Linked DNA regions of Homo sapiens: regions 1, 2, 3 and 5 are each linked to region 4. The links come from fine-mapping of genetic effects on plasma protein levels. A gene starts in region 4. Each other region holds a variant in brackets. All regions are shown on one strand. Distances are from middle to middle.

Evidence for each region. PIP is the posterior inclusion probability: the model's chance that the variant is causal. The UK Biobank Pharma Proteomics Project read protein levels with antibody pairs (Olink). The fine-mapping took linkage between variants from a reference panel, not from the people measured, so its PIPs are less certain.
Region 1: its variant is fine-mapped to the plasma level of the MDGA1 protein (UK Biobank, PIP above 0.99).
Region 2: its variant is fine-mapped to the plasma level of the MDGA1 protein (UK Biobank, PIP above 0.99).
Region 3: its variant is fine-mapped to the plasma level of the MDGA1 protein (UK Biobank, PIP above 0.99).
Region 5: its variant is fine-mapped to the plasma level of the MDGA1 protein (UK Biobank, PIP above 0.99).

Annotation. Positions count from the first base shown.
Region 1 is chr6:37,672,853-37,677,953 of GRCh38, reverse strand. The region is part of intron 1 of MDGA1 (MAM domain containing glycosylphosphatidylinositol anchor 1); the gene reads left to right. Among named protein-coding and RNA genes, the nearest start is that of MDGA1, 22 kb to the left of the region's middle. The variant C/T (reference allele first, on the strand shown) is at 2,942.
Region 2 is chr6:37,612,164-37,617,264 of GRCh38, reverse strand. No RefSeq gene overlaps it. Among named protein-coding and RNA genes, the nearest start is that of MIR4462, 59 kb to the right of the region's middle. The variant G/A (reference allele first, on the strand shown) is at 2,335.
Region 3 is chr6:37,646,319-37,651,419 of GRCh38, reverse strand. MDGA1 (MAM domain containing glycosylphosphatidylinositol anchor 1) reads left to right here. Exons shown (of 17, transcript NM_153487.4): 8 at 1,015-1,311; 9 at 2,154-2,438; 10 at 4,096-4,247; 11 at 5,045-5,101. Among named protein-coding and RNA genes, the nearest start is that of MDGA1, 49 kb to the left of the region's middle. RefSeq lists a silencer at 2,615-2,714. The variant C/A (reference allele first, on the strand shown) is at 2,075.
Region 4 is chr6:37,696,003-37,701,094 of GRCh38, reverse strand. It overlaps MDGA1 (MAM domain containing glycosylphosphatidylinositol anchor 1), which reads left to right and starts at 3,212. Exons shown (of 17, transcript NM_153487.4): 1 at 3,212-4,350. The coding sequence starts at 4,284. RefSeq lists silencers at 2,101-2,170, 2,191-2,260, 3,127-3,256, 3,277-3,346, 3,407-3,536 and 3 more and enhancers at 3,859-4,588, 4,589-5,092.
Region 5 is chr6:37,710,571-37,715,671 of GRCh38, reverse strand. No RefSeq gene overlaps it. Among named protein-coding and RNA genes, the nearest start is that of MDGA1, 15 kb to the right of the region's middle. The variant C/AC (reference allele first, on the strand shown) is at 2,730.

The DNA.
Region 1 (5,101 bases), 23 kb after region 4:
GCTAGAAGTTGGGGTGCAGCACCCCTATCTCCCCCTGCAGCTGGGTGGGGTGCTTTCCAGGAGCTGGAGCTCTACCCAGGGACCCACAGTGACCCGAGGTCGGAGGGGGTCAGAGTCTGCCAGGCTGTGGGAGACCCCCAGAAATGCTGTCCTTCCTTCCCTCCCTTTCTGTGCTGCTATGGGCCAAGGCCCCACCAGCTCTCAAGCTGCAACATTGATTTGCTTTCATTGTTGTTATTGTTATTATTATCCACTTAAACAACTTCATAGAAAAAAAAGAAGCCCAATGACCATCAAACATTAACCATTCATTCTAAACTCCCTGCCCATACCTGTCAATATATTTTTACATAGCAGTAAACAGTGGTCTGTTCTGCTTTCTCGGCTGCCTTTATCTCCTACACACGTCTCCTGCTATTGACTGAGCCCTCAGACCTGTCACTTTAATGGCCGCAGGACACCCCCTGCATCGATGTGCTGGAGTTCGGGTCACCATTTCTCTGCTGCCGAGCATTTGGGTAGGAGCCAATTTCCCTTTCTTTTAAATAGCTCTGCCATGAATATCCTTATGTGAATTACTTTTTCCTTTTAAATTATTTCCTTGGGGCCTATTCCCCAAAGTGAGACTGCCTAACAGGTCATAGGATAGGAACAGTTTTATGGTTCTCATTTCGCACTGCCGGGTTGTGTGACGGAAAGTTTGAGCTGGTGTTGTGCACAGCCCGGCCACAATGGATTTTATCATTTTAATTTATTTTCACTGGTTTAATAGGTGCATTATGGCCTGCTTTTTAACTTCCAATTTGAACCTCCTGAAGCCATACTTGGGTCGTTCGGCACCTAATAATAATAAGTCCTGCTCTATGCAGAACTTTACAGTTTACATGATACTTTCTTAAATGTCATCTCACTTAATAAGACACTGTAAGCCTAATGTTATTGGCCTCTGTTTTATATGGGGAAGTGGGGGCTTAGGCAAGTTAAGTGCTGGAGTGGAGCCTCTAACTAGTTCTTGCAGGTTTGGTTGCTTTTCCTTTTTTTTTTTTTTTTTCTGTTGAGATGGAGTTTTGCTCTTTTTGCCCAGGCTGGAGTGCAATGGCACAATCTCAGCTCACTGCAACCTCTGCCTCCCGGCTTCAAGCAATTCTCCTGCCTCAGCCTCCCGAGTAGCTGGGATTACAGGCACAAGCCACCACCCCCAGCTAATTTTGTATTTTTAGTAGAGTTGGGGTTTCACCATGTTGGCCAGGCTGGTCTTGAACTCCTGACCTCCAGTAATCTACCAGCCTTGCCTCCCAAAGTGCTGGGATTACAAGCATGAGCCATCATGCTGGGCCAGGTTTGGTTGCTTTTCTACTGCACTCTGTGGAAAGGACTCCCCTGCCACCTACCTCCATCCATGCTTATGTGAGGGCTCAGGGTCCCCAGATGCCCACTGCAGCCCAAATCCAGTGCCTTAGCCTCATTTTCTCCCTTTGGCCCCTACATTCAGGCCTGTGCCAGAACCCCAAGCTGAGCCTACTTGAGAGTTGGGGTTTAGCTCTGTGGGCCTTGGAGAGAGCCATGTTCCATCCCTTTGCCTCACTGGGCTTTTTGATCAGGTGGTGCTTTGGGGGCTCCTTGCTTTAGCAAAGCCACTGCCATCCCCACTTCCTGGCCCAGGCTCTGCCTTCTGGTTTGGAGGCCTGGATCTGGCAGTGTGTCTCCGGTCCTACCCTGGTGGTGCCCTATCCCTAGCGACTGTGCCACAGACTCCTAGAGACTGGGGCCTATCAGGATTCACCCTGGAACAGGAGGACCTTCTCAGAGCAGACACACTCATGAGTCTGGTTTTATGTCAGCCCCTTCTAACTGTACTTCTAGCGTATCTACTAGGCAGCATGCACTATGCGCAGGGCATTCCATTCTCAGTGGGTCTCACATTCACAATAGGGAGCCCTGTTATGTCCATTCTCTAGTTAGGAAGCTGAGGCTGTAGACTAGATGGGTAAATGATTTGCCTCAAGTCACCCAGAAATTACTGTTTCCGTGGGCTTGGTTCAATAGGTATGCTTTGACAGGTGCAGGCTTGTCAGATCTAGACCCTGGGCTGCTGCCAGGGACCAGTGCCAAGTGAACCACAGTGATGGGGTCTCCAAGACCAGCAGAGCTTGGTGGGGCTAGAACTTTCCTTTCTGGGATCCAGGCAAGGAAATTTTACATGAGTAACAATGAGTAACCCTGTGTCCATGGGTCCCACATCACTGGGCCAGGAAGGCTCAGACCTTGGGATCCTAGGAGTCATTCTCTGCCCTGATGGGTGGAAGCTTCTCTTTTCCATCATCTTACATATTCTCACAGGGAGAGCTTTTCCTCCCAGTGATTATTACTACTTTCAGCCCACCTTAATGTTCTGATCTCTCAGGATTACAAACTCCTGGAAATCCTTCAAAGTAGACCTCATTCGGTTTCACATTTTTTTCTTGCAAGACTTTGGAATAGGTTCCCAAAGCATCCTGGGCTATATTATTAAGTGGAAATGGAACTGAAATTTATTAAGTACCTGCTGAGTACAAGTCACTGTGTGATGTACCCGATGTGCATTGTCTCATCGAATCCTCACAACAACCCAAAAGTTATCTCCATTGAAGCCTGAGATGTAGTACTATCCCCATTTTGCAGATGAAGAAACTGAGGCTAAAGGAGGTTAAACAACTTTCCCAAGGTCACTTGGTCACTGAGTAAAAGGTAGCGCACTCCTCCCTACCCCTCACCCTATGCCGTTGAGCAGCCCTCTCAGATTTGCATTTAAAGCCTCTGATCAAGCAGTGCCCAACTTGTCCTGCCTTTACTGATTGGAGATGACCTGTGTCCCCTCATCATTAACAGTTTTTTGTTGTTGCTGTTTTTGCTTTTTTGAGATGTAGTCTCTCTCTGTCGCCCAGGCTGGAGTGCAATGGCA[C/T]GATCTCGGCCCACTGCAACCTCCACCTCCCAGGTTCAAGTGATTCTCCCGCCTCAGCCTCCCAAGTAGCTGGGATTACAGGCGCCTGCCACCACACTCAGCTAATTTTTTGTATTTTTAGTAGAGACGAGGTTTCACCATGTTGGCCAGGCTGGTTTCGAACTCCTGATCTCTAATGATCCGCCTGCCTCAGCCTCCCAAAGTGCTAGGATTACAGGTGTGAGCCGCCGTGCCCAGCAATCATTAGCAGTTTTAATCCTGGCATCCTGGGACCCACCAGGAGAAAGTCCCTTTATAGTTTTCATCAGGAGACCTAAAAGTCCTCATTAAAGGGCTTTCCTGGTGGCCTGTCCAGACACCCTCTAGTTCTATAAGTGGGTGTGCAGATTAGACTTCCATTGATAGACAGTGAAGATTCTATGAGCATCACCTGCCACTTTCAATACCTGTGTGCCTTCCAATGAGACCAGGATGTGGGCGCAGTGGTGCTGAACATCCCCAGGGAATGGGACATAATGGACCAGCCGCCACTTGCAGCAGAGGAGAGTTGTAAGGGTGCCAGCCTCTCCCAGAAGCTCCAGGCGCCACAGTGGCAGGCTCTGCAAATGGAACAAGGCCCTGCAAACTGTAGCAGGCTTGCATCTGACTATGAAAGCAGACCTTGTTTTTGCATTCAATTGTGGTGGCGGGGTGGCGGCCTGCACACTGATCCTTTCAGCTGTGGCTGGTTGCTGTATTCAGTGACAGCGCCCTTGTACCCGGAGGTCAGAGACACATGCACTCTGGTTAGGGAGAGATTTTTGCAGCCAAAGGGAAGGTTGGCTGAATATGGGTTTGGTTTTGATGAGCAGAAAAGGCCCTGTGTCGGGGAACAGGCTTTAATATGGTTTGCAGCAGGGAGAGGGCAGAGGTTCTTTGCCCAGAAGGGCTATGCCTCATTTGGCTCTGTGTCCCAGCACTGAGGGCAGGAGATTTCACATAATAGGTGCTCAGAAAATGTTACAGAGCCAATTAATGAATCAATGGCAAATTAAAAGGTGATTGTGTGTGCCCTTTGAGGGACTGGGAGGACAGGGAGCGAGAGGGAGGATGGGAAGGAAATGGACTCGAACATGAGTCTAATGATCGGAGAGAGAATGACCAGAACTGGATGGGCCAAAAGTCTGTTGCTGCTTTCCCTCAAGATGCTCTGCGTTCAGGCAAGGCTGGAGGAGATGGTGTGAGTGGGTTTGGGCTGTTTCAAGTCGGCTTTCCTAGCACAGAACTGGAGCCTCCCCCAGCCTCAGAGCACCTCCGAGAAGTCACCTGGTCCACCCCCGGCTGGTGGTGAACAGAGGACAGGCTCCAGCCAGCTCTGCAGAGAGCGGGGCTGTGGTAAGGGCAGAGCAACTCCCGATGCAGTGAGCACAGAAGGGCAGGGCTAATTTTCCCAAGAGGCCCACGCTTGATGGCTCACAGTCTGTAGAGAGGCTTGGAACATCATCCCTGGCAGAAGGAGGCCCAGGCGGAGCAGGCCAGGTGCCTGCCCAGGAAAGCCTCCTCCCAGGCCCCCGACCGCCATTCTCTGAGCAGCTAATTAAAAGAGAAAAGCCTGTTAATATTTCAGCACTATTAACTCCACTAAATTATTAAGTGTTCATTTGCATTACATGCATAAAAGGATCAATAAACACTTGCATACCAGGATCTGGGAGGGCGAGAGGTGTCACGGCGAGGGAGGGACGGTTTCTGAGGATGCTGCACAGCATCGGTCCCACCAGGAATGTGGAGGCTCCGTGCTGAGCTGTGAGCCCTGCACTGGGCTAGGCACTTGCGAAGTGGAAATGCATGGCGGTTAGCATGAAAGACGGAGAGTCAGACAGACTCCAGACCAATGGGGTGTCCTTGGGTAACTTATATAACCTCGCTGAACCTCAGCTTCCTCATCTGAAAAGTCCGAACCATAGTAGGCTTGTTAGGAGCAATAAATATGATAAAAGATATAAAGCACTGAATATATTGCTGGCAGAGTAAATGTCAATAAAGGGTAGCTATTGCAGTTAATGTTATATTATGGGGATGGGGGGTGGGGGGAGACCTGAGACAGCACTAGTCTCTAGTTCACAGCAATCCCTCCCTGCTCCCTCTCTGCCTCTCAGTGGGCCTTTATAAGCATCGTTC
Region 2 (5,101 bases), 84 kb after region 4:
AGAGTTGGGCAGGCTCCAGGAGTCAGGGTAGGCTTCCTAGAGGAGGTGGCATTTGCAAGCCTAGCAGGATGCTTTGGGCTGCTCCAGAGAGAGGTCTTGGGCAAAGGGGTGCAGGGACTAGTAGTCCGAAGTTGGGCTGGTGCATTGCAGGGAGTAAGGGTGAAGGGACCCGGGTAGGCCTGACAACAACTGCTTCAGTGGCCAAGTCAGAAGCCTGTGCCACCCAGGTCAGGGAAGTGAGCTGTGGAGACCCTGTAAGCAGGGCCAAACTTCACCCTGCTGGCACTAGAACATTGGGGATTTTTTAACTAGAGGTGTAGACAGCAGGAAACAGCATTTCTGGAGGAAGGATGGATATGGAATACTTGTTGAGCACAGCAACCCACAGCCTAAGCTAAGGGGAGGAGCAAAGCAGCCAAAGTCAGGATCTCTGTTCACCCAGTGCTCCATCCCAAGGCAGCGTGGGACTTAGACTTGGAACCGAGCCCTCCAACTAGTCTAGCCACCTTGTGGGAGCAAAGCCTATCACAGCACCAGACACACAGTAGGTGCTCAACAAAGAGGGGTAACTATTACCCAGCCCACTGGGATGACAATACTGCCAGGACTTGGTAGGCTGGGGTGGTGGATGGAGGCTGTACAACTGAGTACTACCAGGACCACCAGGAGGTAAGTCCGGAGAGTAGAGATGTCTGGTTGGGTCATTGCTCTAGCCCCACAACCCGGCACAAAGCAGGGGTTCACTACATTTTTGGTGACTCTGCAAGGTAGGCCTCACGATCCCCATTTTACAAATAAGAAAACTGAGGCTGGCAGAATTAAAGGGAGTTGTCCAAGGCCACACAGCTAGAAAGTGAGGGAATCAGGTTCTGCTGATTTTCCAAACCCAGTTTCCTTAACCAGCACCCACTGCTACCTGCCTGGAGATGGGCAGGGGCCAGAAAGATGCTCTGCCTCCCCCATCAGACTCAAAAGTGAGAGATCTGTTTCATTCTCTCTTTCCCCTTGTTGGTCCCTGCTCAGGGTTCGAACTCTTTAGACCCGGATGGAGGCTAGAGGAGATCTTCAGAGGCCACCTCGATGACCTGAGTCCACGCCAGGCCCCCGTCACTTCCTGGGGAGTCTGAGGAAGGCAGCCTCAGCAGCAGCGGGTGGCCTGCTAATTAGGACACGGTCTTTATGACTCACTATTCTGAGATGTCATTTTCTAGACTTGGGGTTGGGGGTGGGAGTGGAGAAGGCACACAGAGTTGTTTTTAATTACATTTGGTTTGCTAATTTCTGATAGAAAATAAATATTTACCGGGAGCCATATTTCTTCATTTCACGCCGGCTGACTCCTGAGTTTATCGGGAGCCCAAACAGACACCTCCTGCTCACCTCCCTGCCTTCCCAAGTTCCTACCCCCGCGTGGAGTCACACACCAGGAGCCTGGAGGAGGGGGCGGAAGGGAAGAGATGGAAGGAGTTGGACAGGCAGACAGGGGCAGGCCTGGCTTCTGTGGGCAGAAGGGCTAAGTTCCAGTATGAATAGAGGGAAGAGGATCTGAGGACCTGGAGATGCTCCTCCCTCCTCATCCTCACATGGGCAGTGGCCAGCTCATGGATGGGAGTCTGGAGGTTGGGTGGCCTCAGCTCTGTGCCAGCCAGCCCCGAGCCTGGCCTCCCTTCCTGGGCCAGCTTCCTCCTTCCTACTGGGATGATCTCCAAGGACATTTCTGCCTTGCACATCCTGGGATGTGGTGATTCTGGCCCCCAGTAGCATCCCTCCAAGGACTGACCTCTGAGGCCTTTTTGGGTAATGTGGATGGGCAGGAAGATTTAAAGGTCATCCTGTCTGCTCCTTGGCCTCCAGATGGGCCTTTGCAAGGGAGTGGGAGGAGGGAAAGGAGTAAGGAAGGAGGGAGGGAGAAAAGGGATGGGGAGGAGAGGAAGGAAGAGAGGGCTGAGTTCCCCTGGCAGAGGGTAGGGGGCTAGGATGTGGCCCTCAGGAAGTAAGGACATCTATTCTTCTCTCTTCTGAAGGTCCAGGTCTTTGGGTTTATAGGGCACATACATCAAAGGGGGTGCCTCTCTGATGCTGGAGAGGGAAAAGGATAATAGAGGCCCCTTAGTTGAGGGTTGGGGGCCTCAGCAGAGTGGAAAGATGGAGTAGAGAGGGTTTCTCGATCTCAGCACTCTTAGCAATTCTTGATTGTGGAGGTTGTCCTGGGCACTGTAGAATGCTTTGCAGCACCCCTGGCCCTACACAGTAGATGCCAGTAGTATCCACCCCCGTCCCCAAGTCATGACAACCAAAGTTGCCTCCAGACACTGTTAGATGGTGTGTGTGTGC[G/A]CACATGAGCGTGCAAAGTTACTCCTGATCAAGAAGCCCTGTTTAGGATAAGGGGAGGTGAGGCTGGGAAAGAGAAGAGAAAGGGAGGAGCCTCAGGAGGATGAGGAGGAGCTTGTGGGGACTCTGGGCTGAGTGGTGAGGGGGCCCCCTGAGAGATGGCGAAGAGATAAGGAGATTTGGAGGCTGTAGAGTGTAGAGTTCCCTGCCCCCAGCCTGGCTTTTAAATCCATGTTAAGCCACGATTGTTTTTTTTTTTTTCCAATTACATTTCAATTTAGCTCAATTACTTTTCCATTATTGTTCAAGCGACTCAGTTTTAATTGAAGCTGCTGGTTCTTATCTCTCTCATTCCCCCACATAGAAGGAGGGAGGGAGAAGGAGGGTGTGGGTTAGAGGGAGCCCAGGTTGGTGGGGTTCTAAGGGCAATGGGCATCTTCAGCAGAAAGATCAAGGCTTCCAGAGGTGGGGCAAACTAGGAGCTCTCTGGGGCATCTCTGAGTGGTCAAATAAATCTGCAGGGAGAGCAGGAGAGCTACAAAGAAGGAAGGGTGTGATCACGACATATATGAAGTACCAGGCATTGTTGTAGCCAAGGTACATTTAGTCAGCACAGTCCTGCAAGGGATGTACTATTAGCATCCCCATTTTACAGATGCAAAAACTAAGGCCCAGAGAAGTTAACGAATTCATTCTGGGTCATAATCCTGATAAATAGCAGAGTTGGGAGGCAGTTCAGTCCCCTGGCTCTTCAGTTTGCATGCTTAACCCCAGACTACACTCAAACCCTCTCGCATGGTTATGTCCACTGGCCCCTCCCAATACCTGTCCCCACTCCCAGACATCTCCTCCTTCCCTCCCTCCCAAGCTCTGAGTCTGGCTCAGTTTCTTCCAGGTCATTTGGCTTTCCATCTTTCTCTAATTTCTGTCCAGGCTTCAAGACCCAGCCCTCCCTATCTTTTCCAGGAAGTCTTCCCTGATTGCCCTTACCCTCATGTATTCCTACAGCCCTAAGCTGCCATCTACCTACCCGTGTTACTAGCTTCTGTGGGGTTGGGGGTGGCAGCTGGGAATAGGGTGGGGGATTGGGAAGGCAATGCTTTGGAGTTGGACAGATCTGAATTAAGCAACCTGCAAGCCGTGTGACTTGGGCAAGTCATTTAAGCTCAGTGAGTCTCCATTTTCTTGCCTGTAAACTAAGTGTTAATAACACCATCTCTTGGTAGCGGGTGTCCTGTGAATTAAATTAAATGAGATGAAGTCTGTAAAGCACCAGCAAGGGGTAAGAGGCCTAAACAGGGTAAAGGGGTTCCTTATGTTGACCCTGAGATGCAGGTACAGTAGGATCAGTCCCCCAACTTCACAGATCAAACAAATGAGCCCCAGAGATGTGCTCAAGTCCTGTAGGGAGGTAGAAGAGAGTCTGGGCTTGGGAACACATTTTAACCCTGAATGTCATCAATTCTGTGGCAGAGGAGACGGGGGAGGAGGGGTAAAAATAGCTGTGAACTTTCTGACCCCTGGGGGTGAGGAGCCTGGACTCTTACTCTTCCTTCACCTTCCTTGCTCTGCCTGGGGGCCCAGGGGAGTCAGAGAGGGGCCACCCTGTGACTCTCATGGTGGATGAGTGATAGTGGTAAAAGCAGGCAAGCCCCCCTGCCATGCATTTGTGGTGTGTACATGGTTTTCTCAGTTGAGAGATGCCTTCCATTGAAGTAACAGCATATTAGACCAAAAGGGGTGTCCCCTAGCAGGCTGGAGTGCAATGGCGCGATCTCGGCTCACCGCAACCTCCGCCTCCCAGGTTCAAGTGATTGTCCTTCCTCAGCCTCCCGAGTAGCTGGGATTACAGGCATGCACCACCACACCCAGCTGATTCTGTATTTTTAGTAGAGATGGGGTTTCACCGTGTTGGTCAGGCTGGTCTTGAACTCCTGACCTCAGGTGATCTGCCCGCCTCAGCCTCCCAAAGTGCTGGGATTACAGGTGTGAGCCACTGCGCCCAGCCTGGTTTTTCGTAAGTAGCGAAAAGTCTGGAGGGGTTGATTCCTGAGCTGGTCAATGACTCAGGCTCCTCACAGATCCCTCTGCTCTGCAACCTTCAGTGTGTTCATAGTGTCCATCGCCTCATGGTCACAAGATGGCGGCCAGAGCACTTCATCACAGCCTCACAGACAACATCCTGAGCTGCAAGGAAGAAGAAAGAAAAAGAGAGCTCTCCTCATGCACTCTCTCCTTTCATCAGGGAGAAAATTCCTTCCCAGAGACTGTCCAGCAGACTTTTGTGTCTCATTGGCCAGAACTGAGTCATACAGCCACCTCTGCCTGCAAAGGAGTTCAGGAAATCCAGTCTCTGGCACCATAACCTTAGGGTGCACCCTTTGGCAGCCTCAGTTTGATGTGGAGAGGGTCTCCTGGAAGATCCCCAACTTCAGGCCTTCGTGGACTTTGATTTCTGTCCCTCTCATCTCAAGCCTCCCTTGATTCGAAGCTCAGTTGAGCAGTATCTGCAAATAGCCTCAGGATAAACAGCTTTGGTGCTTACCTCTCCGGTTAGACGCTTTCATTCCCAAATTAGCTTGGTATTCCCTGTTGCTTTCTCATCTTTTTGAAGCATTTAAGTTTATTTTGTTAACATATATTTTATCCAGCACTTTTCGTGGTCTTTAGGAGGGTTGATCTGAAAAGTGCTAATGCATCGTTACCTGGGACCTAGACTCCAGTATATGGCAAAGAGGAGAGGAATGTCATATTTGGCCCAGACCAGTGA
Region 3 (5,101 bases), 50 kb after region 4:
CTTGCCTTGTAGAGCTATTTACAAATAAGAACTTTGTATTTAAATTATATTTAATGTGGAACATGGGTACATTTTAATTTGTTTGATGTAATGTGCAATGGGACTCATGGAAGTCTTCAAAAGACCCTCTGATTGGGCAATGTGTTGGGTTGAATTAAGTTCTGCCGTGAATAAAAGAAATTAACAGTGTTATTAACAGAAATAACCCTAATTAACAGTGGCTTAAACTAGCTAGATGTGTATTTCTTCTTCATGTAAAACTGTGCTGGTGAGCAGTCAGGGCTAGTATAGGGGCTCTGCTCCACCAAGTCCTCAGGGCCCCAGGCTCCACCTGGCTTGCTCTTCCATCATCCTTAGCATGTGCCACGTTGCCCATGATGGCAGTTCCAGCTGCAGCCATTATTCTGCATTCTTTTCTGCAGGAAGGAGAAGAGGGGTACAGCTTCTTTTAAACGCCCTCATTTTCCTTAGTATCCCATTGGCGAGAATTTAGTCACGTGGCTGTAGCTAACGATAATGCAGGCTGGGAGATGTACTCTTTTTTCTGGGTGGCTATAAGCCCTGCTGAAAACTAGGTATCCTATTACTTAGGACGAAAGGGCAAGGATGTAGGACAGACTAGCAGCCTGTGATAACACACTAGGGCAAGAGAAGATGAAGTCTTTAAATAGGCCAGGGCCCGGAGTAGGACAGAAGGACCAAGAATGGATATATTTAGAAATGTTTAAGAGGTGGAATCCCTAGTACTTACTAGTGCTGGGGAAGAAGGAATATAGGCCAGGCTGACTTCAGGTCTCTTTTTGAGTTGGGAGACACTGAGGTGGAGACCCAGGAGATGGAGAGGATTTGGAAAAGTGAGTTCTGCTTTGGAAATACTGGGGGACCAGTCGGAAGTCTGGGATGGGAGAGAGAGGCTTGCCCCTAGCGGGAGGTAAGCAGGAGCCAGAAGGCAGAGCCCAGTGGGGAGCTCTAACTCCGCTCCTACCTCTCCGCTGATCACCATCACCCCCACAGTGCCGCCCACCATCAGTGTGCCCAAGGGTAGGGCCGTGGTGACCGTGCGCGAGGGATCGCCTGCCGAGCTGCAATGCGAGGTGCGGGGCAAGCCGCGGCCGCCAGTGCTCTGGTCCCGCGTGGACAAGGAGGCTGCACTGCTGCCCTCGGGGCTGCCCCTGGAGGAGACTCCGGACGGGAAGCTGCGGCTGGAGCGAGTGAGCCGAGACATGAGCGGGACCTACCGCTGCCAGACGGCCCGCTATAATGGCTTCAACGTGCGCCCCCGTGAGGCCCAGGTGCAGCTGAACGTGCAGTGTGAGTCCACCACGCCACCCGGACTACCTTCCCAGCTTTCCTTCTGGCTCCCAGCCGGCCTGTCCCCTCTTCATCCTCTCACCCACCCCAGTCCAACCAAACCCCACCAGCTACTCCTGATACCCCTAATGCTCCTTGACAGCCCCATGCTGTAGGACACGGAGGTCTGTGTTCTTTGCTCCATTTCATCAAGTATCTCCCATCTTCATTTTCAGGGACCCGGTGAACAAAAAAAAAATTACTTGATTTTGCCAGGTGGAAATGGGATTTTGAAGGAGGAGGAAGGACACTCAAGGGAAACACTGTCTGATAACAGGATGATGAAAATTACCACCATGTGCCAAACACTGTTCTAAGAGTTTTAATGCACTAACTCATTGAACCCCCCACAGCCCTATAATAGATTCTATTATTCCCCCATTTTTACAAACAGGGAACCCGAGACACGGAGAGGTTGAGTAACTTGCCTAAAGTCTCACAGAGTCAGGGCTGGGATTTGAACCCAGCCCATCTAGCTTTAGAGATTATGCGCGAAACCCCTGCGTTATCCTGCATTTCATTGCTTGGGGTGGGCGTGGGGTGAGGGGCCCACTTAGGGCGTGACTGGAGGCCGGGTCTGGGAAGCATGGCTGGAGAGAATGGCCAGGAGGGAGTGGGTATCTGCAGGTTGGGAGGTAAGATCGTGGCCATTGGAGGGATGTGTTGCGAGTGTGCATCCGCCCTGGGATTTTTCCTGGCGGGGGCTCACGGCATTAGAGGCGAG[C/A]GCGTTGCCTCCCCACGGGCCACTCCTCAGGCCCCACTCGCTGGGGAGAGGCCCCGCTGACCGCCGCTCCCGCCCCCAGTCCCGCCGGAGGTGGAGCCCAGTTCCCAGGACGTGCGCCAGGCGCTGGGCCGGCCCGTGCTCCTGCGCTGCTCGCTGCTGCGAGGCAGCCCCCAGCGCATCGCCTCGGCTGTGTGGCGTTTCAAAGGGCAGCTGCTGCCGCCGCCGCCTGTTGTTCCCGCCGCCGCCGAGGCGCCGGATCACGCGGAGCTGCGCCTCGACGCCGTAACTCGCGACAGCAGCGGCAGCTACGAGTGCAGCGTCTCCAACGATGTGGGCTCGGCTGCCTGCCTCTTCCAGGTCTCCGGTGAGCGTCCAGTGGGTCCCGCCCCACCTACCACGCCCACCAGGGGCCAGGCTCTGCCCCAATCCCAGCCCGGGTGATTCTTTGCCTGGGTGGGCCTGCTGGCCCCCTTGAAGCCCACCTACTCCAGGCTTAGCCCCGGCCTTTCCAAGACCCGCCCACGCCAAGGCCAGGCCCCGCCCCGTGCCACTCGGATCCCAACCTGGGCCTCCCAGCCCCGCCCTCCAGGTGCGGGCCACGCCCCTCCACTCACACCTTCCCTTGAGGTTGAGGCCTTCGCCTTCCAAGGCCCGCCTATGCCTATACCAGTCCTAAGCCCCGCCCATTACAGCTCAGCCCGCTTCCTGGGCGTGTGACAACCGCGCCGCTTTCAAACATAGCCTTCCCACAGGCCTAGGCTTCGCCTCTCTACCAGCACCCAAACCAGGCCTAGACCCCTTCGAAACCCATCCAAGCCACGTCTGGGCTCCGCCTGCGTAAGGCGTAGGCTCCACCCCTTTCAGCTCGGTCCAATCCCAGCTTCCAGCCGTTCCAGCAGCAGGCAGCATCCCTTCCAGCCCCGCTTCCACCAGCGTTAGAGCCCCTCAAGCCCAGGCCACAGCCCCATCTCAGCCCCTCCCCGCTCGTCCTTGACCCCTGAGGCTACAGATGGGGAACCCTTCGGGAGCCTGAGGTGTAGTTTAGGGGAGAGAAGACGCCCCTCAGCAGCTTCTCTGGAACGTTGTTGCGGGGCACTGGGCCAGACAGCACACGTTTCGTGAGCTGGCACCCTAGAGGTGCAGGCCCTTCGGTGCCCAGAAACCCCTCTCAGCCCCAGCTCTTCGAGGCATTCTCAGGTGGGCTGTCAGGGGCTGCAGGTGGCAATGGGTGGGTCAGAAAGGGGTGGAGGTGGTGGTGAGGGAGGCCTAGGGGAACAAGAGGGGCTGCCTGGGTTGCTGATGGTCTTCCTCCATGTGAGGAGAGCCGCCTCCCTGCAAAAGCTGGTGGCAGCGCCCCTGGAGCAGAGCCTGGGGATGTCTGTCCCCCATTCAGTGGCATACACAGCTTTCCCAGCAGCACCCAACTGACTAAGTGGCCCTTCAGCTTCTGTTTGAATCCCTCACTCAACAGCAGGGGGATAGGACGGCAGGTCACTGGCCCTTTCCCCACTCCCCTCCACCCAGCCCTGCCAGCCAGAGGCCCCTGTGACATTTCCCACCTCCTTCCCTTCTCCCCTGTTCTCCCACACTTTCCCTGTCTCCCCACTCCTCTCTCTATTCCCCTCCTCTCCCTTCTCTTTCTTTCCTCCCAATATCCCTGACTCTTGTGTCTTTCCCCCAATCTCTTTCCCCATCTTCCCTCATATCCCTTTTCTGTGTCTTCCTAAATTTCTCTTTACTCTGTTTTTTTCTCGGCCTGCCTTTCTCTTCTCACCAATATCACCTCTTGGAATTTCCAATCTCCCTGTCTCCATCTCCCACTTTCCCTCCTATCCCATCCTCGTTTTCCCCAATCCCCTCTTCTCCCAACGTTCCCCACCTCACAATATTCCCTTTCTCTTTGTTTCTCCGTCCCCTCTCTGTTTTCCACCTCATCCTCTTGTTTCCCTTTCCCACACCTCCTCTCTTTGTGTCTCCCCTGCACCCTCCACGGCCCAATGCCCCCCTCCCCGCCCTCTTAGCCAAAGCCTACAGCCCGGAGTTTTACTTCGACACCCCCAACCCCACCCGCAGCCACAAGCTGTCCAAGAACTACTCCTACGTGCTGCAGTGGACTCAGAGGGAGCCCGACGCTGTCGACCCTGTGCTCAACTACAGACTCAGCATCCGCCAGGTGGGCCAAGGGGGAGCGGGGGCCTGGGGGCAGGTGGAGTGTGGTGTGGCTGACCCTGGAAATGCTCATCAAGGCCAGAGGAAGGGTCGGAGATGGGGCTTAGACACGTTGACCCTTTTAGAGGCAATTCTTCAGGGGCAGGGAGAAAAGTTTTGGACATAGCAGCAAGAGATTGGAGGTTCTAGGGATCTGTCCCTTCTGGACCCAGACTCTAGGCACAGCTCTGAGAATTGGGCAGGCAAGGGTCTGCTGGGTTCGTGGGGGAGGGAGCCAGCACTGCTCACAGAACATAGAATCAACTCTTGGGTCAAGAGCTTAAGAAGGGTATGGGAGAGGGGAGGGTAAGTCTCATCCAGGGGGTCTCCACCATGCAAAGCCAGGGTCTCTCTGTTGTTCTCGTGCCCAGTCTGATTCCATGTGCTTCTGCTCAGCCCAAGAGGTGATTGGTGGGAGGGTAAGAGTGTGGCTCAGGGGCAGACTGCCTAGACCAGAACCCAGCTTTGTGTGAGCTACAGCAAGCTACTCTCTTTGGCCTCAGTTTCCTTATCTGTAAAATGGGGGTAATTATGATTTTTGCCTCATAGGATTGTAATTTTGAGGATTAAATGACTTACTAATGGCAATATACTTAGAACAGTGCCCCACACTTATTAATGTTTCAGTGTGTTGCTGTCATCATTTTTATTATGAAGACAGCCCTGGGAGGTGGGCACGGAAGGGGTGATTGTCCTGTCTCACAGATGAGGAAACTGAGGGCCTGACTTCCTAGGCATCTGGGAACTCTCTGTACTTAACAGTTGAACCAGCACAATGCGGTGGTCAAGGCCATCCCGGTCCGGCGTGTGGAGAAGGGG
Region 4 (5,092 bases):
ACCACCAAGCCTCCAGATAGCCTGACCTCAGGCTCATCCTGTGCCCTATGGCCCATGTCAGGTCTAGCAGTCTAGCTCTCATGTCCCCCCTGCCCTTGGTGCAATTTGGGGGCCAGAGTATTGTTCTCTGTGTCTGTAAAGGGAACAGGAAACAGTTCTTGTGGAAACATTATTTGATACCTAGGCCCTTGCCCCTCTTCAGTATAGAACAGTGGGAGAGGGCAAGGTCGCCGAGCCAAGCTACTGAGGTCAAAGCTCAGTTTGGCCCCTTAGCAGCTGAGTGAGTCACTACATCTTCCTATGTCATTCCATGAGAATAACAGCCCTGTCTTACATAATGGTTATGAAGATTAAATAGTTAATACAGTGCCTGGCATGTGGTGTCAGCTGTTATTCTTATTACTCCACTTCTCTCTAGGAAGACAGGGATCTTACCTAGTTTACATCTGGGGAAACTGAGGCCTAGAGAGGTTAGGACTGGGACGCAGGACTGATGTCTAGGGCTCTTTCCCTTCTCTGAGGTTGCCTCCCATTGTCAGACACTGGGCTGTGTTGAGGCAGCAGGCAGGGCACACTTGGGGGAGGAGACAGCTGAATTTACAGACACACACAAACAGGCTGTCAAGGTATTTACACTGCATACAATTAGCTGCAGAGTATTCACAAGTGGATTAGCTACAGCAAATGTTCAATCCCAGCCTGGCTAACTTGGTCCTCTGTTCCCCCCACCCCGCCATCATGAACCTTCTTTCTCCTCCAGGCTAGTGTGTGAGTTTAGAGAGGGCAAAGTCAAGAGAATGTCAGCTGAGTCAGTGCAGTTCTCTGTCCCCAGTAACTCACCCCAAAGCCAAAGAGGAGCAATTGACTGCTGTTTGGTGTTGGAACAGCTAATTGGAAAATCAGAGCGCAGTTTCGCACGACATGGAGAAGTACACATTCAGCTCAGAATGGGCAAAGCCAGGAAGAGCCACAGTCGCTGTGATCACTCCCTGAGAGCTTCCTGGAAGGGGTAGAGACTTCCAGGAACCCTCTAATAATGGGAAGAGGATGACAATAGAAGAAGCTATCCCTCATCACTCCCTCAATTGGCACCACTTCCTTTTCTGACTGGATGGGGGAGGCGGGAAGAGGCATGGTGGCTGTGTATCTCTGTGGGACAGAAAATGAATTTTTTGCCTTTGAGGTAACAGTCCGGGGCTGGGGAGTGAAAGGATGGCTACCCTGAGGGTATCCCAGGTCTGTGATATCTGGCCATGATGGGCATCATTCGTGAATTCACTGAACATGTCTGCAGCTGGCATCTGCTGGGAGCACCGCACTGAGTCTGGACTTCCTATCAGCCTTGGACCCACGGGGTAGAAAGGAGAGAAAAGACGGAAGAGGGCACAAGGGAGGCGCAAACGAGTGGAGGTGGGCTAGAGAATAGGAATCTTCGGATGTTCTCGGGCTTCCTGAGATGGACAGAAAGGGGGCTGAGAAAGGAAGGTGGAACCCCCCCATGCCACCAGGCACTTCCCGACACCTCCCGCTCCTCTTCCAGCAGTCAGGAGCGCGCGCTCCGGTGGGGCTTAAGCCCTGGAGAGTCAAGGGAGGAGAGACCCAGCAGGAAATGGGCCTGGGGAAGGGACGGTTCATTATTATTATTTTAAAAAAATTTATGTTTCAATTTATATGCAGACTAACCTTTTTGGAGTGTGGAGATCTTTGAGTTTTGACAAATGCATAGAGCCGTGGAACCACCATCAAGATATTGAGCAGTTCCAGGGGGCGAAGGGAGGGGGGGTTCGTAGTCTCCCCGCTTGTTAGCTGCTGCGATTGTCTGCGCTCCCACGGGCCGACCTAAAACAATTCTTGCGCACACGCTGAGATAAATAACGGCGACAGGTGGAGCAGGTGAGATTAGCAGGACCCGGGTTGGGCGCGGGGCGGGATCGGAGGCGCGGGGGAGGCCACCAGCCTCGCTTGCCAGCCTACGCCCCTCCCCGCGGGCGTTTGGGAGGAGCGTTCTCCGCACTCCTGCTCCGCGAGGGCCCCTTCGAGGCGGCTGAGACCCGAGTGCCGGACTCCCGCCGCTGGAGCGGGGCTCGGGTTCGGCAGCCGGAAGGAGGTGTGCCCCCGGGGCGCTTGGGGGCGCCTGAGGTCCCGAGGGGAGGCAAGATGGGAAGAGTGGCTAGCCGAGGAAAATGTGGGGTGACTTAGGGAAGCTCTGGCGGAGGGGTCGTGCGAGCAAACCTGTTGGCAACCTGTGGGCCGCGGCAAGGGCAGGAGCTCTCAGCGCGACCTCTCCGCCAGCTGCTCCGGCCCGGCCCCAGCACCAGACGCCTGGAAAGGGGCGGGGGCCTCTCGAGCCGGGCAGACAGCCTTGCAGACCCACAGCCGCGGCCCGTCTCGCGCGGCTGCAGGACCCCAGGAACCGCAGGCGCCCGGCCTTTCCCTAGGACCCCCGCTTCAGTCCCGCCTCCCCAAAGTGCAAAACATTTACGAAGTGTGCAGTGCCCTGCGGGCATGGGTCTCCGAAGCGAGCGGCCGTGTTTGCCCCGCGGGCTGCTGGCAACGGTGCACCCGGCTCGGCCAGCTAGTCTGGGTGTGCAAGGCTGGAGAACAGCGAGTGTGCGAGCGCGCGGCTGCAGAGCCCCCGCCGAAACCCAGGTCCCTCCGCCACTGTCCTCGGGATAGATGGATCCATTTCTGCTTTCTGACATTTTCCTGCTGGGCGGGGTTGGGGGGGAATGTTAGGGGGCGGAGAGAGGAAGAGAGAGAGAGGGAGAGGAGAAAGGGAAAGAGAGGAGAGGAGAGGAAGGGAGAGAGAGCGAGAGGGAGAGAGAGAGGAGAGAGAGAAGAGAGAGAGAGGAGAGAGAGAGAAAGAGAGAGAGAGAGAGAGAGAGAGAGAGAGAGAGAGAGAGAGAGAGAGAGAAAGAGAAAGAGAAAGAGAAAGAGAAAGGCAGGCAGTCAGCTTCCCCCAGCCCTGTTTTGTTTTCTCTAATTGGTCCTGGGGGAGGCGAGGAAATTGGACAGAGGCTGGGCCAGGCGAGCTGGGCTGCCTTTAATTGGCTCCTTTTTTTAACTGGAGGGGAATCAAACAGGAGAGCGAGCGACAACGGGTGGGAGAGCGAGAGACCGAACGAGGAGACGCGAGGAGGAGGGAGGAGGAAGAGAGGGAGGGAGGCGGGAGGAGCGCGGAATGAAAAGCTCGGAGGGGCGAAAAAGCAGCACAGCAAAGCCCAAGTTGCTGAGCGAGCGGAGCGCTCCCGCGGCCCGGAGCCGAGCGGCCGCCGCGCCCCGGAGCCCGGCCCGGCCCCGCCCGCTCTGGGCCCCCGCAGGCCAAGGCCGCCGGGCGGGGGCGGGGACGACCAACTTGGGGCGCGGCGTAGCCCCGCTCTCCCGAGAGCTCGGAGCCCGGGAGGGCTACGGCCGCGGCCAGACGGCGGGAGAGGAGCGCGGCGAGCGGAGGCGGCGAGCGGCGCCCGCGCCGCAGCCCCGGCCTGGGCGAGAGCGCGAATATTTTTCAAAAGACTCAAACTTTCCTCCTTTCCCCGTTTTCTGGGGCCCTTCTTGCCTGGAATTGCTCTCCAGATTCCCGCGGGGCGCCGGGCTGCTATTCTTCCCCCGGGTTTATCGGCGGCTCGGCTAACTTCACGGACCCGGGGACCCGCGGCGCTCGTCCCTCGGCCGAACCCAGCCCGCGCTGCTCCCCGGATCAGGAGGGCCGGGCCCGGGGCTGCTTCGCCGCCGCGAGTGCTTTCAGCCCGGCCCCCTGGAGTCGGGCCGCTGAGCCCACGGCAGCGGCCGCAGGACTGGAAACAGCAGATTGATTAACTCGAGCGGAGCCCCGGCCTCCCCGACTCCGCTCCGCTGAGGGGCGGCCCCAGTGCGGGGAAACGACAAGTTTGTCAGTCGTCCGTGGCCTGTTGGATCGAAGCGCCGCCTCCGCCGCCGAGAGGTCCCCGGCGCCTAGCATCCCGCGCGGACGGCCCTGGGTACCCGGGGCGGCTCGGCGGCCGGGCTCCTCGGGTCGGGGCGCTGGCTGCTGTGCCGGGCGCGCCGAGGCACCCGGGGCTGGGCCAGCGCCCCCTGCGTCCCCACGCGGGCAGCGGCCCCGCCGGAGGAGAAACACGGGTCGCCGCCACCTCCGCCTCTTCAGTCTCCTGGTCTTCGTCGCCGCTCTCTCTCTCACCTCTCAGGGAAAGGGGGGGACATAGGGGCGTCGCGGGGCCCCGGCGAATGCGCCCCCCGCCGCCTCTCGGGCTGCGCCGCCTCGCGGGGATGAAGCACCGGCCGTGAAGATGGAGGTGACCTGCCTTCTACTTCTGGCGCTGATCCCCTTCCACTGCCGGGGACAAGGAGTCTACGGTAAGAGCCCGCGTCCCGCTCCACCTTGGCTTAACCTCGCGCGGAAACTTTGCAAGAGGCGCAAAGTGCGCGCTGCCGGGGTTTGGTGGAGACCTCGACTCGGACTCTGGAGTGGATGCCCGCGTCCCCGCCCTCTCCAGGGCGCGTGGAGACCGAGCTAGCTGCTTCGGAACACAGGGGCCGGTCGTAGGGTCTGGTGGGAAGCCGGGATGTCAGGAGGAGGCACCCACTTTCCCACACCCTGCTAGAGGTGGGAATGATTAGGAACCCTTGAGAGCACCCGGTCGGCTCGGGAGACCCGGACAGACCCAGTCTAGGACTGGTGCAGCGACTTGCACCGAAACCTCGTCCTGGCTCGGCCTCCGGAGTGGAAGCCAAGCGATGCATGAGCCGGAGTTGCCGCGCGGCTTGCGGGCGAGCCGGCTGTCAGCACCAAGGCCGGGCGGCGGGCTCGCCTTCCCCGCTGTTGCTGCGGCTTCGCTTCTTCTACTCAGGGCTTGACACCCTGATCAGGATGCCGGCATCCCCTGGCCCTGGCGCCTTCGACCCCGGCATCCCTTTTCGGACCTTCCCTGAACCAGTTCTTCCTGTCCCCGGTTCTTGGCTACAAACCCCAACCCCACCTTCCTTCCTGCGCGCACACACAGATACATTCAGCCACCATCCCCAGAAAACGCAAACACGGCACGCACCCACCGGGATACGTGTCCAAACTCTGCCTCCTGCCACGCAGCCTTGCTCC
Region 5 (5,101 bases), 15 kb before region 4:
CCATACCCACTTCCAGGGCCTGTACAGGCCTCTTTCCTGGGTCTGTCTTCCGAAGGTAGATCACACTGCAGTGGTGTACCCTAAAGCCTGAGAGGCAGCCCAGGGGTGTTTGTTGGTGGGGGATGTGAAGAGAACTTGGGCCGGTAGGCAGGAATGTCTACACACAAGCCCAGGGGCCCCTTGCAGGGCAGGACAGGGCCAAAGGGAAGAAAGAGAAGGGACAGGGGCTGGAGGCAGATTCCCTGCACCACCCTTTTGTAGCACAGTTCTGAGGATTCTGAGTCTGAACCTGACCTTCCTGGCTGTTATAAAAGTTTATGTGTCAAGGTGTAGAATCTGTGGAAGACTGTATTTTCTAAAAATGGTAACGGCAGCGTGTCATCTTGCTTGCTCTTTCAGATCTTTACATTCCCCACCAAGAGGCAGAGTCCACTTCCCCTCCCCTTGCATCTGGGCAGCACTTTGTGACTGCTTTGATGAATAGAGTGTGACAGAAGTGGTACTGCATGACTTCGGATGCTAGGTCATGAAAGGCAATCCAGCTTCTTATGGGTGTCTCTTTCTTAGGAAACTTGCCCTTGGAATCCATCCATCATGCTGTGAGGAAGTGCAGACCAGTCCTCGTGGAGAGACACATGGAGAGGGACCGAGGCCTCCAGTCAACTACCAGACATGTGAATGAGTAAGCCTACAGATGCTTCCAGTCCCCAGTCTCTGAACCTTCCAGCTGAGGCCTCAGCATTACAGGGCAGAGACAAACCATTCAGGATCTGACTTCCTGATCCACAAAATCTAGGAGCTTAATAAATGTTAGTTTTATACCACTAAGTTTTGGCACTTCTTATGCAGCCGTAGTAACAGGAACAGATTCTAATATATTTCATTTAATAGATTGTGAGCACTGAGATTTTGAAATACTTGGATATAGAGCATGAGAGTCTCCATTTGTCCTCTTTCCCTGAGCCTCCCAAATGTTAGGGACAATCTCTAGAGTTCAGTGCCCAGTGTCAGTAGTATAGGCTGCAGAGTCTGTGCCAGTTGTGGGGGTAGATGGGCATCCACAGCAACAGGTCTAGGGTGTCATTTGGACACTGTGTTCCTGACTGTGGTTTCCAGGCCTCATCCTCTGGTCCTCCTAGAGATTGTGTGAACTACCTGATTTCCTTTGTAAATTCCTTTTCTGCATAAAACAGCCAGTGTGATTTCTGTTGCTTGCAACTTAGAAACCCTGATTCAGACAGAAACTGTTTCCAAGTTATTTCACTTTGATTCAGTTCAAAAGACATTAACTATCTGGCACATGGCTGGCCATATTTTTGGCAATAGTAACAGGAAGATGAAAAAGACAGAATCTTATATTAGATAATAATAGCTAACATTTATTGAGTGTTTGGATTGAGCTAGACACTGTGCTTGGCACTTTTCCTGCTACATCAAGAGTCTCACAACCACTTTCTGTGGCAGGTACTACCATTCGCCTCCTATCACTAGAGATCAGGAAACTGAGACTCAAAGAGGTTAAGTAACTTGCCTAAGATCACACCATTAGTAAACGGTAGAGCTGGAATCAGAACCTGTGACCATCTGACTGCAATACTTGCTTTTAACCATCTGCCTCCAGGCAACATCTGTGTTTGGTGGGACAACACACAGATAATGTCATTATAATTTCAATGAGTTAAGAGTATTATTCTAGGAGCATGAAGGAGAAGCATTTAGTGGAACTCCAGCAAGACTTCTGGGAAGAGATGTTGCCTGAGCTGAGTCATGAGGGATGTGGGGGGCTGGTCAGATGAAGGAGGATGGGCAGGACACTCCAGACTGTGCAAACCGCATGTGCAAAGGGCCAGAGGAATGAACTGGCATGCCCAGAGTGGCCATATTGCAGTGCGTGGGCTGGGAGCAGAGGGGAGGAAGGCAGGGCCCAAATCCTACAAGCACTGGTGCTAAGCTGGAGAGTCTGAACTTGATCCTGTAGGCTGTGGAGGGACACAGAGGGATTTTCAGTGGATTTGTGATTCAGAAGTCTCCTCTGCCAGCACAGGGGGTTGGCTTGTAACATGTGTGGGCTGGAAGCAGGAAGCCGCTGCATAATCCAGGGGAGAAATGAGTAGGGCTGCACCGAAGCCTCAGAAGCCTCAGTGATGGGAACAGGAAATGGATGGAAGGATGGAGGAGATGAGAGTTGGAGGAGGCAGAGCTGCTGAATTTGAATGTGCATTTGGAGAGGAAAGGAAGAGCCCAAGGTTAGGTTCCAGGCGTCTGCCCGGGTGATGAGAGAATGACGAGCCATTCACCAAGATGAGAAACATGGGAGAAGGAATGGGGTTTTGTGGTTTTTTTTTGTTGTTGTTGTTGTCTTGTTTTGTTTCTGAGATGGAGTCTTGCTCTGTTGCCCAGGCTGGAGTGCAGTGGCGCAATCTCAGTTTACTGCAAACTCTACCTCCTGGGTTCAAGCGATTCTCCTGCCTCAGCCTCTTGAGTAGCTGGGATTACAGGCATCCGCCACCACGCCCGGCTAATTTTTTGTACTTTTAGTAGAAACGGGGTTTCACCATGTTGGCCAGACTGGTCTCGAACTCTTGACCTCAGGTGATCCTCCTGCCTCAGCCTCCCAAAGTGCTGAGATTACAGGAGTGAGCTACTGTGCCCAGCCAGGGTTGTGTTTTAAGCAGATAGCTGGGCAGCCTCAGGGGGCTCAGCCAGAATATACAGCTCATCATCGCCAA[C/AC]AATTACCAAGTGCAGGCAGCACTCCTGGCCCTGGGCTAAGGGCTTACCTCACTGGATGTGGTGAAGATTCAAGAGTTAATACTTGTAATTGGTGTAGAATAGTGCCTCTCACAAAATAAGCACTCTGGAAGAATTTGCTCTTATGTTTACTACTGTTAGCCTTGTTTTACAGACAAGCAAACTGGGGCACAGAGAGGTGATGTAACCTGCTTAAGGTCACACAGCTAAGAAGCTGGCAGTCAGACTCCAGAGAAATGCTCCTGGCCCCACGCCACACTGTCTGCAGGTCACTGAGTGGTAATCAGAACCATGGGATGGATGAGCTCATGAGGGGGCAGTGTGACAAGGATAAAAGCAGGGGCCAAGGTTCTGGGCCAACTAGGGAGACCCTGGAGCTCACAGTGAACTTGTTCACCACAGAAACGGTGCTGAGGGTCCTTTGCTGGAAAGTGGGGATAAACATAGCACCTCTTAAAGGGCTGTGATGAGGGTGGAGGGAGATAATGCTGCACATGGAACCCGTAAAGCTTAGTTATTAGGATTAGTGGTGCTTGTGTTTGCATCTCCAGTCACTCGGAACCTCAGTTTCCTCCTCTATAGACTGGAGACCCTAATGACATCCCAGGGTTCCCACGATTACATGAGCGAATACGTGACTGCCCTTTGAGGACTGTGGAGTGTTCTACAAAGGTGGTGTATAGTCGTCCTCCAGCAATGGATTGGTAAAGGAGAGTGGGAGCCTGCCTTGAACTGGTGGACAGCTCAGGCCCTCATCAGGCAATTGGGTGAGGTTGGCAGGGTGGCTGGGAGGATGCGGGCCAGGCCTGGGCTGGCACCAGCTCACCAGGCCTGGGAGGAGTGATTGAGGCTGATAGACTGAGGCCTCCCCCATGCCTCTCCTATCTCAAGTTGAACAGTGTGGCATTCAATGCTGCTGCATCCTGGATGTACTCTTGCCTCTGCATGTGTGTGTGTATATATGTGTGGACATGCACACATAGGGGGAGCCCCTAACTTCCAGAGTCAGGAGGTGGCAGGTATGAAGTTTTCGTTGGGAAACCTGCTTCTTGAATGAATTCTATCCTGACCTCCTCTGACATTCAGTAAATGTAGTTGGAGTCCTTTAGAGCATTTGGTCTGTTTGGGTGTCTGTCCTGATATCTGTAAGCCAAGCCTGTGCATGTAGGTCTGTAGGGGCCGAGTAACAGTGCCAGTGAGCCCCACAGGGAGTGATGACAGGATGACTGTCGTCGCCAGGTTGCCGTGGTTATATACCGTGGCATATGCTGGTGGTGCCAATGGTGATGGTGTTGAGGGTGGGTCAATGGTGGCCTCTTGGCTGCCCCTTTCACACACTGCAGCCATTTTTCCTGCAGGTCGGGCCTTTCCTTGAGAAGGAATGGTGATGAGGGGGAGGCTGGGAGGAGAAGCAAGGAAGAGGAGAGGCATCCTTATCTCTCAGTACCTGGTGTTCTAACAGCAGCCCCTCCCTGACAGCCCAGCTTTTGCAATATCACTTTTTTCCTCCGGAGAGCAGTTCACTTTTGCTGGTATGATCAGGAAGGTAACAAGTGGGGAAAACTCCCTCCTACAGCATTTTAATCTAGGTGGGGTGAACACGCTCTGCCTGGCCTCCCTCCAGACCTTTGCTTAAATTGTCCCCACCACCTGGAACACCCTCCCTTGAGGCAGACATCTCACCTCAAAGCCTCAGCCTCAAATACGTCTCCTTCATTAAGCCTTCCTAGGTCTCGCATGATAGAACTGATTCCTCTGTTCTTGGTGTGCTCCTAGGTTGCAAAGGCGATTGTGTGGTAGCTGTGGATGGCTTTGAGGCCAACAAATCTGGGTGGGCCAGATTGTGTTACACCATAAATTGGATCAATGTCCTTCTCTGTTTTAGACTGTCAGCCACTATGGTTTGAGTTTGTGTGGCCTGAGACACCAGGGCCTGCTACAGTGGTGTGTTGGTAAGTGTTCAACAACCACCTGTCTGGGGGAAAGGTCTTGCTTTGTAGCCTGAACGTGGAATTGAGAAGAGATGCTGCCAGCTTGTGAGCTGGTACGACTTAGAGTACACAGCTGCTGATTCATCTCTCTGAACCATAAATGTTAACATCAGCTAGTGCCTAGCACATAGTAGGCCCTCAATGCATGTTTGAATGAATAAATGATTATATAAATGAATGAATGAGGCATTGGGTGGGTAGGTAAAATTCAATTAAGTGGCTAGAGCAGTGGTGATTCATGGCTGGCTTCGGGGTGGCGGGGGCAGGAGAGAGGGGGTTATATCTGTTGGGCAGAGGCATTGGTGGCCGGCACCAGGCAGATCCAAGATGTCACAGCCCACCACCCAGAAGGTCCTCCTGCC